2 linked regions of the Homo sapiens genome follow. The protein of the gene in region 1 purifies or fractionates together with the protein of each later gene. This does not show direct contact. Each region holds a gene or a part of one and is shown on either strand. Other genes may lie near its edges.

Evidence for each region.
Region 2: the proteins of SIX5 (region 1) and EYA3 purify together in Homo sapiens (affinity purification with western blotting; 2 studies listed by BioGRID and IntAct, with this or other methods). This does not show direct contact.

The regions. Positions count from the first base shown.
Region 1 is NC_000019.10:45,765,913-45,774,515, forward strand, and holds the start of SIX5 (homeobox protein SIX5), read right to left. Parts: upstream 3,341-8,603; 5' UTR 2,933-3,340; coding exon 2,130-2,932; exon of another isoform or gene 1,884-2,129; intron 1,244-1,883; coding exon 438-1,243; intron 200-437; coding exon 1-199. Other genes in the region: DMPK (myotonin-protein kinase), read right to left, coding at 4,569-4,728, 5,059-5,144, 5,438-5,484, 5,656-5,753, 5,859-6,016, 6,729-6,840. UniProt on the Homo sapiens protein: Transcription factor that is thought to be involved in regulation of organogenesis. May be involved in determination and maintenance of retina formation. Binds a 5'-GGTGTCAG-3' motif present in the ARE regulatory element of ATP1A1.
Region 2 is NC_000001.11:28,084,929-28,093,446, forward strand, and holds the start of EYA3 (protein phosphatase EYA3), read right to left. Parts: upstream 3,683-8,518; 5' UTR 3,596-3,682; intron 1-3,595. UniProt on the Homo sapiens protein: Tyrosine phosphatase that specifically dephosphorylates 'Tyr-142' of histone H2AX (H2AXY142ph). 'Tyr-142' phosphorylation of histone H2AX plays a central role in DNA repair and acts as a mark that distinguishes between apoptotic and repair responses to genotoxic stress.

The sequences.
Region 1 (8,603 bases):
GCCACCGGGAGGCCTCCCTCAGGCACGGAGATGGCCGTCTCTGGCTTCAGTGGCAGGGCCAGGCCGGGGGCTGGCGGCAGGACCTGGGAGACGAGCATGCTGGTGGGGAAGGTGGCGGTGAGGATGATCTTGCCCTGCTGCAGGGCCACACCCGTCACGATGGGGCTGCCAGACACAGGGTTGGCCAGGAGGAAGTTTCCTGTGGGGAGAGAGGGACCGAGCGCAGGTGAGAGCCAGGAGAGCAGGCCAAGCCAGAGAGAAGTGGAGACTGTGCAGCTGGAGGGCGGGCGGAGGGAGCCTTGTGGTGGGCCTTGGGGCACTGGGACTTGCCAGGGATGAGATGCCCTCCAGGAGCCCAGGGACAGCCCCTCCCTCTCCGAGATGACTGCACCCCTCCCCGGCTCTCACCTAGGCCTGAGGGAGGGAGATGGGGGTACCTGGGGCAGTGGCCGAAGGCAGCTGCAGGGCAGTCACGCCCACCCCGGAGTTGATGAGGTGCACATTGGCAGGGCCTGCTGCAGCTGCCACCTTCACAGGGCTGCCTGGCCCGGCTGCCAACAGCTGCAGGGGCCCCACAGCCTGGGGCAGGGTCACCACCTGTGAGGTGGGTACTACCTGGGGCAGGTTCAATAGTGGGGAGGTGGGGCTCAGGCCCGTGGGATACCCCGGGGGTGGGGAGAGCGGTACCACTTGTGGGGCAGCCACAGCAGGCACTGGCCCCGGGGGCAGAGGAAAGGTGGCAGCCGTCGGGGGGCCAGGCACCACTTGGGCCAGGGGCCCCAGGACCTCCTCTCCAAGGGCTGGTCCCGGAGCAGCCACCTGGGCCCCTTTGGTCTCAGGGGCCTCCGACTGAGCCTCCTCCAGCCGCACCTCCCCTGTCTGAGGGTCCAGGACCAGAGAGGTCTTGGTCTCGCTGGCCCCCTGAGGGCTGGGCTGCGGTGGAGGGGCACCCCCGCCCCCAGTGAGCAGCAGCGGGCCCAGGCTGGAGGCCTCGCCCAGGGCCAGGCCGTTGATGATGACGGGGCCCCCGTTGAGGAGCACTGCTGGGGAGCCGCTGGCTGCCAGGAAGCTCCCGTTCACCAGGATGGAGGAGGAAGCCGGGCAAGGCGCGGGAGGGCCGGTCCCTGCCAGGAATATGGAGCCCTGGGCAGCGGCCTCGGCGGACACTGGGGCCGCCCCTCTCTCCAGGTCCTCAGGACTTCGGCTGGACTCGTCCTCAGTCGTGGGATTCCCATCAGACTCGCTGGCCGGAGAAATGGCTGTCAGCTGGGGTCCCTTAGCCTGTGGGGCCTCCCGCATAGCCAGCCAGCTGCTCCCCCACCTTTCCCTGGCCCAAGTTTCGGTGGATCATTCCAGGGGTTATGACGCCTCTCTGAGACCACTCCAAACTCCAGGGCCTTTTGCAAGCCCTGCGTGGACACCACTGCAGAGAAGCGCTGGGGAGGGAAGAGGCCCTTGCTCTCCCCCACCTCGGCCTCGGGTCCCCAGAGGCTGAGCTCCCAGGTTGCCCTAAAAGTTCCTTGGTTGGGCGGAAAGCGGGCGAGTGGCCTGGAGAGAGGGAGCAGCAGCCGCCAGCCCAGTTCCCGGTGCCCTCCCCGCGGGGCGTCAGAGAAGGGAGAGGCCGGCGCTCAGGGTGGGAGGAGAAGGGTTTGGGTTACAGGGAAACCGGAGCTGGGAAAGGTTCACGTTTCACAACAAAGGCAGAAGACGGACCACGCCGTCCGGGCCCGGAGGGAGTGTGGGGGCGGGTGGGTAAGAGTAACGGTCAGTGAAGAAAGGGGGCTGGGAGGCAGCCCCTACGCGGAGTGGAGTGGCCACAGGCCCTGTCCTTTTTCCTCAGTCCCTCTAGTGCCCCCCGCAGTGTGATTCCCCAACACCGATGGGATTTGGGAAGGAGCTCGGAATGGAGCCGCTGGAAGAGGAGACGCGTGCGGGGAGAGGGCCCGGGCGGGTGCCTGTCCCGTCCACACTTAGTCCCCGCGCCCCGCGGGCGCCTGAGATTGTGAGCTGGTCCCGGGAGATGTCCGAGGACCTCGGCGCGCCGGCCCCAGCAGTGGGCACGGGGGAAGAGGGCTGGTGGACGGGATGTCCCCGGGAGAGCTGGACTTGCGCCGCCCGAGGCCCCTCACCTCTTGCAGGGCGCGCCGCCTCCGGCCCCGGTCCGGTCGCGCTGTCGCCGGTTCTTGAACCAGTTGCTGACCTGCGTGAGCGACAGGCCGGTGAGTGTGGCCAGGCGGCGCTTCTCGTCCGGCGTGGGGTAGCGGTTGCCGCGGTAGCAGGCCTTGAGCGCTGCGCGGGAGCGCTCCTTGAAGCAGTAGACTGTCTCCTCGCCGTCCCAGATGGTCTTGGGCAGCGGGAACTTCTTGCGCAGTCGATACTTGTCCACTGCGCCAAGCGCGCGGCCGCGGGCCCGCTCGGCCTCATGGTAGCGCGCGCGCAGGTAGAGGTCCTGCAGGAAGGCGTGGTGGGCGGCGGGGAAGGGGCGGCTCTCGAGTAGCCGGTAGAGCTCGGCGTACTCGCCCCGCTGGAAGGCCACCAGGGCCCGCGCGCGCAACACCGGGTCGCTGCCACGTAGGCGCTCGGCCGGGGGCAGTGCGCCCAGGAAGCGGCTCAAGCGGCCGGCGTGGCCCGCCTGGAGCAGCGCCTCGCAGACGCACGCCACCTGCTCGGGCGAGAAGCGGAGGCCCGTGGGCGGTTCGGAAGCGGCCTCGGGGGGCGACCCGGGGACGCCCGGGGATCCCGGGCCCTCAGCTCCCGCAGCCGCTGCGCCCGCCCCGGCCCCGGCCGCCGCCGCCGCCTCACCCTCGGCCGCCTGCAAAGTCTGCAAGAGCTGGCGCGCTTCCTCCTCCTCCTCTTCGGTCGCCGCCGCCGCCGCCACCGCCTCCCCCCCAGCCGCCGGCCCCGCGCTCGGCTCCGCAGGCAAGGTAGCCATGTTTTGCAACTTTGGGAAGTTCCTCCCTCCCTCTCTTCCTCCCTCGGGCTTTCCCCAGCCTCCTCCCCCACCTGTCCCCCCTTTTCGCCCCCACTCCCCGCTCTTCTCGATCTTCTTTCTGGCCGACCCTGCGCCCCACGCCGGGAAGGCGAGATCCAGCTCTCCACTCGGGTCTCTGTCCCCTTGTGTGTGTCCGTCCCCCTCCCGTCTGTCTGTGATTCTCCCTTTGTTTTCCCTCCGCCTCTGGCCGCGCTTTCTGCCTCCCCCCAGCGTGTGCTTCTGGCTCAGGGCCTCAGTTTCCCCATCGGGACAACGCAGAAGGTAACGGGCCGTCCAGGAGGACTAAGGGCGCGAAGCCTCCGCCCCGAGACTGAGCTTCTGCACGCCTCCGTCTCCAGGGTCCTCTGCAGGCCCCCACATTCCCCATCTCGGCCTGCGCTCCGCCCCTCGGAATTCCCGGCTCCGCAGGGGGGGCGGGTCTGGCCGGGAGGAGGGGCGGGGAACGGGCTAGAAAGTTTGCAGCAACTTTTCTCGAGCTTGCGTCCCAGGAGCGGATGCGCGTGGCGTGCGCAGGCGCAGTGGAAGGAGGATGGCCGCGCGCGCTGCCAGCCCAGCCCCCTCTTCTCGACGCTCGGTGGCACAGCTGGGCCACAGCTGGGCGGGGGCGGTGCCTCCGGGTGGCCCGCTCGCCCTCCTATTGGCCGGACGCCAAAGCCCCGCCCCGTGGCTTTTCCTCCCCCAACCCTGATTCGGCCGCTTCGCATCCCGCTAGCTCCTCCCAGACCTTCGGCCGCCTCCACACGCCTCCGGATTGGCCCGCTGCGGAGCCTCCGGCCCACAACGCAAACCGCGGACACTGTGGAGTCCAGAGCTTTGGGCAGATGGAGGGCCTTTTATTCGCGAGGGTCGGGGGTGGGGGTCCTAGGTGGGGACAGACAATAAATACCGAGGAATGTCGGGGTCTCAGTGCATCCAAAACGTGGATTGGGGTTGTTGGGGGTCCTGTAGCCTGTCAGCGAGTCGGAGGACGAGGTCAATAAATATCCAAACCGCCGAAGCGGGCGGAGCCGGCTGGGGCTCCGAGAGCAGCGCAAGTGAGGAGGGGGGCGCGGGATCCCCGAAAAAGCGGGTTTGGCAAAAGCAAATTTCCCGAGTAAGCAGGCAGAGATCGCGCCAGACGCTCCCCAGAGCAGGGCGTCATGCACAAGAAAGCTTTGCACTTTGCGAACCAACGATAGGTGGGGGTGCGTGGAGGATGGAACACGGACGGCCCGGCTTGCTGCCTTCCCAGGCCTGCAGTTTGCCCATCCACGTCAGGGCCTCAGCCTGGCCGAAAGAAAGAAATGGTCTGTGATCCCCCCAGCAGCAGCAGCAGCAGCAGCAGCAGCAGCAGCAGCAGCAGCAGCAGCAGCAGCAGCAGCATTCCCGGCTACAAGGACCCTTCGAGCCCCGTTCGCCGGCCGCGGACCCGGCCCCTCCCTCCCCGGCCGCTAGGGGGCGGGCCCGGATCACAGGACTGGAGCTGGGCGGAGACCCACGCTCGGAGCGGTTGTGAACTGGCAGGCGGTGGGCGCGGCTTCTGTGCCGTGCCCCGGGCACTCAGTCTTCCAACGGGGCCCCGGAGTCGAAGACAGTTCTAGGGTTCAGGGAGCGCGGGCGGCTCCTGGGCGGCGCCAGACTGCGGTGAGTTGGCCGGCGTGGGCCACCAACCCAATGCAGCCCAGGGCGGCGGCACGAGACAGAACAACGGCGAACAGGAGCAGGGAAAGCGCCTCCGATAGGCCAGGCCTAGGGACCTGCGGGGAGAGGGCGAGGTCAACACCCGGCATGGGCCTCTGATTGGCTCCTGGGACTCGCCCCGCCTACGCCCATAGGTGGGCCCGCACTCTTCCCTGCGCCCCGCCCCCGCCCCAACAGCCTACAGCTGTTGTTAGTCCACTCGCACGCCTCGAATCCCGTCCGAACTCGTCATTGGCTGCTTCCTAGCGGCCTGTGTTGATTGGCTGCCCGAAGATCCGCCCTCCTGCCGTGGGCCCAGCCCCGCAAATGCGCAGCTAAGCGGGTGGCAAGGGGCGGGTGGAGCGCGGGGCGCGACGGCGGAGGGGGGCGTGGGCAGCCGGACGTACCCTGGCAGGGAGCAGCAGGTGGCGGCGGTGCATGGGGCCTGGCCCCACCAGCGGGCACTGGCCCACAGCCACGGCCGGGGGGCCATCTAGCTGGAGAGAGAAGGGACAGGTGACCCGATCGGAGCCCAGCCCAGCCCTCAGCGGTGGGGCGAGAGACAGCGAGGGGAATCGAGGTTGGGGAGGTTATCTAGGGAGATCCCGGAGGGAATCTGGTGAGGCCTGAACGGAGGGAGATCTGGGGCTGAATAAAGGGCTTCTGCCCTCTAAAGTCGCAAAGACGTAGGGTGAGCCCTATATCTGGACGGGGAGACCAGGAGCCAGGGAGGGGATCTGCAGAATGGGCAGCAGGTCTGAGGCAGGGGAAAGAGAGGGGTCTTACATGGGAAGGTGGATCCGTGGCCCGGGGACTGGGGACCCCCGTGACAGCTGGAAGGAGAAGAAAGAGGCATAGGGCGCGTGGAGGGGCGAAGGAGGGCGGTGGCGCGGCGTGCCCCAGCGTGGGTCCCTTCCCTCCTCCAGGTGTCTATACACGCCCCGCGGAGCAGACGGCCCACCTCCTCCCGGTCCTCCGGGGAAGGGGACACATGAGGGACTCACCTGTGGCTCCCTCTGCCTGCAGCAACTCCATCCGCTCCTGCAACTGCCGGACGTGTGCCTCTAGGTCCCGGTTCCGAGCCTCTGCCTCGCGTAGTTGACTGTGGGGAGGTAAGGACGGTGAGTCCGTCCGGGCCGGACGAGAGGGGATGCCAAGGGTTGCCACCGGCCCGCATCCCGGCCCCGGCCCCGGCCCCGATCCCGACCTGGCGAAGTTCTGGTTGTCCGTGCGGATGGCCTCCATCTCCCGGCTCAGGCTCTGCCGGGTGAGCACCTCCTCCTCCAGGGCTTCCTGGAGCTCCCGCAGCGTCACCTCGGCCTCAGCCTCTGCCGCAGGGACAGCCGCTGGAACTGCCACTTCAGCCTGTGTATGGGGACCAGGCTTAAGGCTGCCTGTGGCTCCTGGAAGACTCAGGACTTGGGCACTGGTTCCAGGCTAGGAATCCTTGTTTATCCCCTACTCCTCCGTCCCCTCAACATTTCTGGAATCCCCATAGCTCCTGCAATGATCCAAGCCCCCTCCCTTCCCTACCTCCCTCAGCCCCATCCCTGAGTCTGGTCCTCTAAATCTACACAGGGACCAGAGGGCTGGTGCTCAAACACTAACACAACCTATGTCCCTCTGCTGCTCAAAATCCCTCCAGCTCCCTAATGCCCTCACGACAAAAGGCCTTGCTGGGTTTTGTTTCCTGCTGGCCTCTCCAGCCTTCTCAGGAATGATTCAGCCAAACTACCTTTCAGGAACAAATCAGGATTCCCACCTGCCCAAGGCCTTTGCCCTGGAGGCTCTCGCCTGACCACTTGGCACCTTTCCTTCCATGGCTTGTTTCTCCTTCACCAGCGCTCAGCTCAAAGATCGACTTCTCAGATCCCCAGCAACACACACACCCTTACTTAATGCCCCACTGTAACTACAGAGACCGTCCCATGTCTGAAGTAACCTCGTCTCTCCGTGGTTTCTGTCTGCTTCTGTTCAGGAAGTCCCTAGAGGGCTCTACAGTGCACGCCACCCGGGAAGCCCTCACCTTTTCTCTCCCAATTGTCCCTGACGGACCCCCTCCCCTCCACCAACTTACTGTTTCATCCTGTGGGGACACCGAGGGCTCCAGGCTGGGCGCTTGCACGTGTGGCTCAAGCAGCTGCTCGGCCTCCAGTTCCATGGGTGTGGGGCCTGGGACCTCACTGTCCCTGGGGAGAGGAGGAGGGAGTGGGGAGGGAGACAGAATGCTGATTCTCTGGTGGAGAACCAGAACTTCTGGCCTGTGGGTAGGGGCAGCTGCTTCCAAGACCTCCTGATTTGAGGAAGGGGAGCAGCAGAGCGAAGAGAACAGAGTCCCAGGTAGGCCAATAGCCCCTCCTCTGCTTAGGAAAAGCCCTGCCCCTCTCCTGGCCTTGGGCCCCTGGGAGCTGCTCTTTCTAAACCTTCTGCAGGGACTTGGGGTCCAGACCCCCATGTTCTAGGGTCAGCTCATCTCCTCCCTTGACATGTGACCGCTGCAGACCCCTCTTCTCAGGGCCTCAGGACAGGGAGGCCGACCTGATGGGGAGACTGCTTGGCTCTGGCCACCTCCACAGATGTGGTCCTAAGACTGGGCATGGGACCCCAAGATGGCAACTTGAGGTCAGCACACCCCACTCAGCTGTGGGAAGGGGACAGCTCCTCCCTGGGGTATGAAGTGGCTGTCCCCTCCAACCCAGCAGTCCCTCCTGTGGGAACACGGCTCAGGACCTAGCTATCCTGGACATGCGCCTGGGTTCTAATAGAGGATGGGTTCAATCCTGACCCACCGTTCAGGCCCCGCAGCGGTTCAGAATCAAGCTGGAGTTCATTAATGATAAGGTATAGTATGTGTAATGTTGTCCAGTAATAAAAGCTGACTAGAAAACCAACTGTTCTCTTAGACAAAGTAGCATGAGGAAGGGGAAAAAAACAAACCAAAAAAACACCTGTTCTCCACTATTTAAACATGTGTCAGTACACGTGTGAGCCAGGGACCACTGCCATCTGGTGAGCTCACGAGATATCAACTTCCTTTTCCTTATCTGTATTTTCTAATTTACTTGTGATAAGCAATGCATTATTTGTGTAATTAATACTTTTGTTGAGACCAGGTCTCACTTTGTTGCCTAGGCTGGAATCTATCATGGCTCACTGAAGCCTCAAACTCCAGGCTCAAGTGATTCTCCTACTTCAGACTCCTGAGTAGCTAGGACTGCAGGCACAGACCACCATGCCTGGCACGATTTTTTCAATTTTTTGTAGAGACAGGGTCTCATTATGTTGCTCAGGCTGGTCTTGAACTCCTGGGCTGAAGCAATCCGTCCACTTCAGCCTCCCAAAGTGCTGGGATTCCAAGCGTGAGCCACCATGCCCAGCCTGTAAATTAGTACTTTTTTTTTTTTTTTTTTGAGATGAAGTTTCACTCTTGTTGCCCAGGCTGGAATGCAATGGCACGATCTCAGCTCACCACAACCTCCCCCTCCTGGGTTCTGATTCTCCTGCCTCAGCCTCCTGAGTAGCTGGGATTACAGGTATATGCCACCACGCCTGGCTAATTTTGTTTTTTAGTAGAGATGAGGTTTCTCCACGTTGGTCAGGCTGGTCTCGAACTCCTGACCTCAGGTGATCCACCCACCTCATCCTCCCAAAGCACTGGAATTACAGGCGTGAGCCACCACACCCGGCCTAAATAAATACTTTTTTTTTTTTTTTTTTGAGACGGAGTCTTGCTCTGTCGCCCAGGCTGGAGTGCAGTGGCATGATCTCGGCTCACTGCAAGCTCCGCCTCCCGGGTTCATGCCATTCTCCTGCCTCGCCTCCCAAGTAGCTGGGACCGCAAGCGCCCGCCACCATGCCCGGCTAATTTTTTTGTATTTTTAGTAGAGACGGGGTTTCACCGTGTTAGCCAGGATGGTCTCGATCTCCTGACCTCATGATCCACCTGCCTTGG
Region 2 (8,518 bases), on another chromosome or scaffold:
CCATTTAAATCATACATGAGCTAAAGTATCCTGTTGTTACATGCAGAACAGAAATATCTTTTGGACAAACCGCTACCTAAAAAGAAGTTCCATGAGGCTTTTATTTATAATCAAAACAAAATAAATGAAGTCATGAAACAGCTTAGGCACAGCACAGAAACCATAATGCTACAAGGTACAAGTGACAAGGACTTGTTGGAGGTATACTTTGTTTCTTAAATTTTCAAAACTACATCAGCCGCCTGTGGGTGGTGGCTCACACCTTTAATCTCAGCACTTTGAGAGCCCGAGGCAGGCAGATTGCTTGAGTCCAGGAGTTTGAGATCAGCCTGGGCAACATGGTGAAACTCTGCCTCTCCAAAAAAATTTCAAAATTAGCCAGGTATGGTGGCATGAACCTGTAGTCCCAGCTATTCTGGAGGCTGTGGGAGGATGACTTCAGCCCAGGAGGTCAGGGCTGCAGTGAGCCGAGATCGTGCCACTGCACTACAGCCTGGCCAACAGAGCAAGGTTTTGTTTTGTTTTTTGTCTCAAAAAAACAAACAAACAAACAAAAAACTACATCTCCGTAAACACAGGATTCAAGGACCAAAAAACAAACAAACAAAACAAGTAAGACAAAGTACATTAGCAAATAAAATGACAAAAAAGAACCAAAAATAATCAAACCAAACCAAAATAAGAAAACTTGGTAAGCCTAAAACTAATATGCAGAAACATATTTTAAATTGAGCCCTTAGGGCTACCAACTAAAGTAGAAATTTTTGTAGAAAATCAACGGTAATTTTTTTTCCTGAGCTTTAAAAACAAACACACATTAAGCTGTCTCTGGGTTTGTTTGTTTGTTTGTTTGTTTGTTTTGGTTTGGCAGCTAGGTGGAGGGTCAGGCTTGAAGATCAGCAGCATGGAACACAACTGCTCCAATGACTACACAGGATGCTCATTTCATTTAATGGCTTCAATGCAGAATATACAGGCCAAAGTCATTTTAGAAGAACAAAAGACTCCTAAAACTTTTCAACTTCTACTTCTGCACAAAACAGTTTCTTTCTCTAGTCACTCTTTGAAGGCAAAATGACTTCGGCTTTGGATTTTAAAATCCATGTCACAGATTTCTTATCCTAATAGTCTCATTCATATATGACATATACTGAAATGACCCACTAAATACTATATTGTGCTTTCCAGCCTACAGCTTTAATGGAATTAACACTCGCTACTCTTGAGAGCATGTATAGGACTTCTTGACTTAAAAAAAAATGACCTTGGAAATTAACTGTTTAAGTTGTAATTTCTTTTTTTTTTTTAAGAGAGTCTCACTCTGTTGCCTTGTGGAGCGCAGTGATGTGATCACAGCTCACTGTAACCTCAAAATCTTGGGCTCAAGCAATCCTCCAACCTCAACCTCCTGAGTAGTTGGGACTACAGGCGCACACCACTACACCAAGCTAATTTTGTCTATGTTGCCCAGGTTGGTCTCGAACTCCTGGCCAATCCTCTGGCCTTGGCCTTCCAAAGTGCTGGGGATTATAGGTGTGAACCACCATGCCAGACCTAAACCCTAATTTCTTTATGTTTTGTAAATAAGAGTGCCACTTCTTACTAGTGACAATGGTATATAATCTTTATAACTAGATTTTATTATTTTCTATTGTTTTGAAGACAGAGTGATTTCCCATCATTTTTGGGGTTTAATGTTCTTATCTTAATCTGCATTAATTAAGCTGGCATTCCCATGGCTTAAATGAAGCCCACAAACCTGAAGGTAAGGAAGCAGCTGGAGTAAGCCATACACATTGGGGTTTGTTTTGAAGGATGGAAAATAGGCCAGGTTGGACAGAAGCTAGAGCTAGGTAGTGGGGAGGAGGTACACATAAGAAACTTTCAAAGAGGCTTCACTTAGCAGTTAGATAAGTCCTGAAAGCCAATCAGAAGGGTCCTTCTCCGTGGCTTCTAGGACTAACATGGCCAAGCTCCAAAGTCCTTTGCTAAAAACAGCTGAAGAGAGCCCAATTTTGGAATAAGCCAAGGACTATACACTCTTATATGTATATGTATCATATAATGAAGATTTTTCTATAGCTAATTAGCCAAAAGATAAGCAGGTGCTCAAAGCTGTATTTAAGTTCATACTGAAGTACTACATTTTAAAGCACAATTTATAGATTACAGAAACTGATGACACAAAAACCGCTGCAATCAAGTGCTAGATATACACTATAAACATCGGGAAAAAATAAAGATTACCCAAGCCTATACTCTAGATCACAAAATTTGGGAAAGGGAGCACTAACCATTATTAAATGCAATTCCTTCATGTTATAAATGACTTTAAACCTCTAGGGAAATTTAAGAAAGGTGCCCTAAATCTCAAAATGAGAAAATGATAGTTTTACTACAAAGGTGGAAATGGTAAGGAAAAAAAAATACAAAAGTTAGAAGAATATTCTAAGTAATGTACTTCTAAGTAATGTAATTCTAAGTAAAGTCTGGCTAATGAAGGAAGAGGAAGACAAATAGAAAACTTAATACAGTAAAAATGAAAAAATGCATATGTGCATACTAAGTTTAAAGATTACTTTGAAATTACTATAGTGAACTCTTCAGCAGACCACTTTTCGGAAACAACACAATAAATTCATAAATCTGGGGCTAATGATCTCTCCACAAATTCTGTCCTCTATCATCACAAGTGTCCTGTAAGAAGCGTCCATGCCGAAAACAGAGCTGAACGTCCCAAAATATTGGCGTTTTTGCCTCAGCTGTGCACATCCATTCTCATGGGAACACAAAACTGACAGAACTTCTTCATGACTTGTCAATTAACAAGATCGCGCCAGCCCAACTGCTAGCAGTACCGTGTGCCTGCCACCTGTTAGCTGCTCTTGAGAGAGCCCCAAAACTGAGGTAAAGCGAAGAACTAGGAACGCCTTTGTTGTACCCTAACTATGGAAGCTACCAGAGTTCAGTCTAACCCGGCGCCTTAAGGCAAAACTTCCCCCAGGCTGGGGAAGTCTTCCCATTTCGGGGCTTTGGCAAAGCTCTCCTCTAGCTAAGGACAGGCAGAAGAACCCCAGGAGAAGCACTGTCACCTACTGGTCCCAGGAGGAAGGATCAAAGCTGAAGAAAGTTGGGGGACAAGGAACTAGGACCCTAGGGAGAGGCTCAGTTTCTCGTGGTGAAGAGTGAGCACAATGAGAAGCTGGGCCGTCTCGCTAGGTGAAAGAACGCTGAGATCCCAGATCAGGGGTAGGGGAAAAGAGGTTCTAAAAGAAGGGAGGAGGAGAAAAAAGGAGAGGCAGTGGCTGAGAGAAGCGCTGAGGCGTAAGGCAAGAAACCGAGGTTGGAAAAGGACTGATGAGGCTGAGGAAAAACAGCGAGGCGACAGAGGCACGGAAGCGCGAGAAGGCTAAGCTGAGGTGAATAAGGCGAGGCCAGCGTGAAGGAAAGGGCTGAGGTGAGTGAAGCACTGCAGTGACAAGGGACAGGCGAAGAGACTCCCACCCACAAGGACCGAGGCAGAACTCTAGACCCATCCCCCTTCACGCTGTGCTCGCCCGGCTGCGCTCAGACCCTGTTGGCAGCTGAGACTCACCCAAAGGCTGTAAAAGCCCCACAACAGGACATGGAGATCAGTCCAGACCCACAGTAGAACCAATCGAGCGGAGGAAACCGCGGCGTTAGCGTGACCCGGATGCGCATCGCTAGGAACCGGAAGTAAGCGGCCAGAGTCACCTCACAATCCACACCTCGTTCCACTAGAAACCTCTGGGCGCATGTGTTGAGTCTGACCGGGCGGGGAAGCTTTTAGGCTCCGCCCACTCCGCCGGCCCGGCGAGCCACGCCCATGGCCACGCCCCTCTTAGTGCCTCGGAGACAAGCAGCTTCTGGGTGAGCGCTAGGCAGTCCTGACGGTACTACAGCCTTCACTTTTAAGGAGGTCTTTAAAAATGCGCGTAATCCCTACCTGGCTAAAAGGAACGTAAGAAGTGTTGGGTGCATTTGGTAGATTTAGAAAAACTGGGAAGGAGAATGAGTGGGAAGTTTTGGAAGACATTTGGGAGGCTAGCCCAAGGTGATCTTTTTTTTTTTTTTTTTTTGAGACGGAGTTTCGCTCTTGTTGCCCAGGCTGGAGTGCAATGGCGCGATCTCGGCTCACTGCAACCTCCGCCTCCCGGGTTCAAGCGATCCTCCTGCCTCAGCCTTTCGAGTAGCTGGGATTACAGGCATGTGCCACCACGCCCGGCTAATTTTGTAGTTTTAGTAGAGACGGGGTTTCTCCATGTTGGTCAGGCTGGTCTTGAACTCCCGACCTCAGGTGATCCGCCCGCCTGGGCCTCCCAAAGTGCTGAGATTACAGGCGTGAGCCACCGCGCCCATCCCTTTTTTTTTTTCTTTTTTTGAGACAGAGTCTTGCTCTGTCGCCCAGGCTGGAGTGCAGTGGCGCGATCTCGGCTCACTGCAACCCCCGCCTCCTGGGTTCAAGTGATCCTCCCACCTCAGCCTCCCGAGTAGCTAAGACTACCGGCGCGCACCACCACGCCCGGCTAATTTTTGTATTTTTCGGTAGAGACGGGGTTTCGCCATGTTGCCCAGGCTGGTCTCCAACTCTGGAGCTCGGTTGATCCCTTGGCCTCCCAAAGTGCTGGGATTACAGGCGTGAGCCCCAAGGTGATCTTTTTATCCCCAAATTTAGTTTATTCTTAATATTATATTAGGCTTACAATTCACTTCGTGCACACTGTTTTCGGAAGCAAAATTCTTAAATGTTTCGTTAATTTTAAATTACAACCCAAGTATGGGCTAGAAGCAAGGTTGAATTCAGGCTTTGTGGAGACTTGACGTTTATTCAATTTGGGGGCCCTCTTTAAAATAATCAAGGCCAGGCACAGTGGCTCATGCCTGAAATCCTAGCACTTTGGGACGCCGAGGTCGACCGGTTGCTTGAGCCCCGGAGTTGGAGATCACCTGGGCAACAAAATTAGACCCTGTCTCTACAAAACAAACAAAGCAAAACAACAACAAAAAAAACCCAGAAAAATTAGCCAGGTGTGGTGGCACGCACCTAACTGAGCCCAGGAGGTAGAGGCTGCGGTGAGTTATGATTATGCCACTGCACTCCAGCCTGGGCAACAGAGCGAGACTGTCTAAAAAAAAAAAAAATCCAAAATTACAAATACAATATTAGATATAAAAGTGAACCTTTTATAATGAGAAAAATTACAAACATTTTTATTAGCTCACAAATACCACGAATAACAAAATCCAGAAAAAAAACTATTTTTTCTACATTTTTTGACTGTATATTTGATCACCTCTTCCGATGACAACAATGTACTAAGCAACATCATTTACTAAGATCCTTAACTCCTCTCTCATATCCCACATGTACTCCATCAGCAAGTTCTGCAAGATTTGCCTTCAAAATCTGTCCAGAACCTGACCATTTACTGCCTCCGTTGGTATAAACCAGTCAGTCAGTGACTGTGAGTGCCCTATTTATACTCTTGCCTTCCCACAATCTTTTTTTTTTTTTTTTTTTCAGACAGAGCCTCCCTCTGTCACCCAGGCTGGAGTGTACTGGCCTGATCTTGGCTCAGTGCAACCTCTGCCTCCTGGGTTCTCCTGCCTCAGCCTCCTGAATAGCTGGGATTACAGGGGCCCGCCAGCACGCGCGGCTAATTGTTATATTTTTAGTAGAGACGGGGTTTTGCCATGTTGGCCAGACTGGTCTTGAACTCCTGGCCTCAAGTGATCCACCCGCCTCAGCCTCCCAAAGTGCTGGGATTACAGGTGTGAGCCTCCACGCCCGGCCCCCACAATCTATTAATATAGTAGCAATGGGCTCCTGTTAAAACCCTAATTAGATCATATCCTTCCTCCAATGCATTCCTATTTCAGAGTAAAAACCAAAATCCTTACATTGGTCTACAGGACCCTCAAGATTTGACACCTCCAGTACAGCTCTGCTCTAACCTCAACTCCTACTCCTTCTGTCATCCTTCCCCTTAAAGCACATTGGCCTCTGCCATTCCTCAAAACTACAGGTAGGCCCAGGGCCTTTGTGCTTTTTAATCCATCTGCCTGGAGTGCTCTTCCCCCAGATACCTGCATCATTCATCCGCTCACCTCATTTACATCTTTATTCACATGTCACTTTCTCAATGAGATCTTCCCTGACACTACATTAAAAATTGGAACACTACCATCCTCTTTGTACTTTCCCATCCAACAAGTTGCTTGTAAATTTGGCTTAGTGTCTCTCTCCCCCTGCCAGAATGTAAGTTCCATGAGTCCATGGATGTTTGTCCGATTTGTTCACGGATGTTTTTTCAGCACCAGAATGGAGCCTGGCACACTGTAGGCACTCAGTAAATGTTTGTTGAATGAAGGGCTAAATTGCTCATTTACTTTGGTTTTCCTGATCTGAAACCCTGCAAACTGAGCCACCACCTCCACCAGAGGGAGCCCATGAGTAATCAATGCAATAGCTCCAGAAAAGTTATGCCTAAAGCATTTACATACATATACACTCTGTTTAAGGACAGGAATATGTTCTGAGAAATCCCTCGTTAGGTAGTTTCATCATTGTGCGAACATCGTAAAATGGACTTATACACACCTAAGCTATATGGTATAACCTATTGCTCCTAGGCTATAAATCTGTATAGCATATGACTGTACTGAATACTGTAGGCAATTGTAACACAATGGCAAGTATTTGTGTATTTAAACATATAAAAACATAGAAAAGGTACAGTAAAAATATTAAATAATCTTATGGGACCACCATCATATATGCATTCTATCATTTACCAAAATATCATTATGTGACAGCTATGATTCTAAAACAGAGCTACAAGAAAGCATGCAAATTCCTCCCCAGAGCAGAAGCTGTACCTTGCTGGTGCTCTAGTGTCTTTACAGTCATTTAAGAATAAAATCCAGGCTGGGCGTGGTGGCTCACGCCTATAATCCCAGCACTTTGGGAGGCCGAGGCAGGTGGATCATGATGTCAAGAGATCGAGACCATCCTGGCCAACATGGTGAAACCCCGTCTCTACTAAAAATACAAAAATTAGCTGGGCATGGTGGCATGTGCCTGTAATCCCAGCTTCTCGAGAGGCTGAGGCAAGAGAATTGCTTGAACCAGGACCTGGGAGACGGAGGTTGCAGTGAGCTGAGATCGTGCCACTGCACTCCAGCCTGAGCTACAGAGTGAGACTCTGTCTCAAAAATAATAATAATAATAATAATAATAATAATAATAAAATCCAAAGGCCGGGCACGGTGGCTCCCATCTGTAATCCTAGCACTTTGGGAGGCCGAGGCAGGCAGATCACCTGAGGTCAGGAGTTCAAGATCAGCCTGGCCAATATGGTGAAACCTCATCTCTACAAAACATACAAAAATTAGCCAGGTGTGGTGGCAGGCACCTGTAGTCCCAGCTACTTAGCAGGCTGAGGCATGAGAATCACAGGAGGCAGAGCGTGCAGTAAGCCGAGATGGCACCACTGCACTCCAGCCTGGGTGACAGAGTGAGAGACTCCATCTCGAAAAATAAACAAATATATAAAATAAAATAAAATAATAAAAATAAGACCTCTAATTTATATATTTCCATTTTGAAAAGACATGATGAATGTATGATCAGTGTTTTATAATAGCTATTAATTTAAACCCTCCTGATTGACATATATGAAGTACAATGGTCTGGATTTTATTTCTGTTGATGTTCTATATTGTACTTGAGGCAATTTCTTATGATATACATGATCGTTGACCTTCTAAAAGCAATCAGTAGTTGGTAGGATTGTAAAATGGTGCAACCTTATGGAAAGCCATATGGTGGTTCCTGAAAAAAATTGAAAATAGAACTAACGTATGATCCAGGAATCCCCTTCTGGGTATATATCCCTAAGAATTGAAAGCAGGATCTCCAAGAGATATTTGCACACCCATGTTCATGACAGCACTATTCACAATAGCTAAGAGATGGAAGCAACCCAAATGTTCATTGATGGATGAATGTATAAACAAATTTGGTATACATACAATGGAATACTATGCAACCTTAAAAAGGCAGGAAATTCTGTCTGGGTGCAGTGGCTCATGCCTGTAATCCCAGCACTTTGGGATGCTGAGGCGGGTGGATCACGAGGTCAAGAGATCGAGACCATCCTGGCCAACATGGTGAAACCTTGTTTCTATTAAAAATACAAAAATTAGCTGGGCATGGTGGTGTGCGCCTGTAGTCCCAGCTACTCAGGAGGCTGAGGTAGGAGAATCGATTGAACCCAGGAGGCGGAGGTTGCAGTGAGCTGGGATCACACCATTGCACTCCAGCCTGGTGACAGAGCAAGACTCCACCAAAAAAAAAAAGAGCATGTACACATGCTACAACATGAATAAATCTTGAGGACATTATGCTAAATGAAATAAGCCACTCACAAAAGGACAAATACCATATGATTCCACTGATATGAGTTATATAAATTAGTCAAATTCATAGATATGG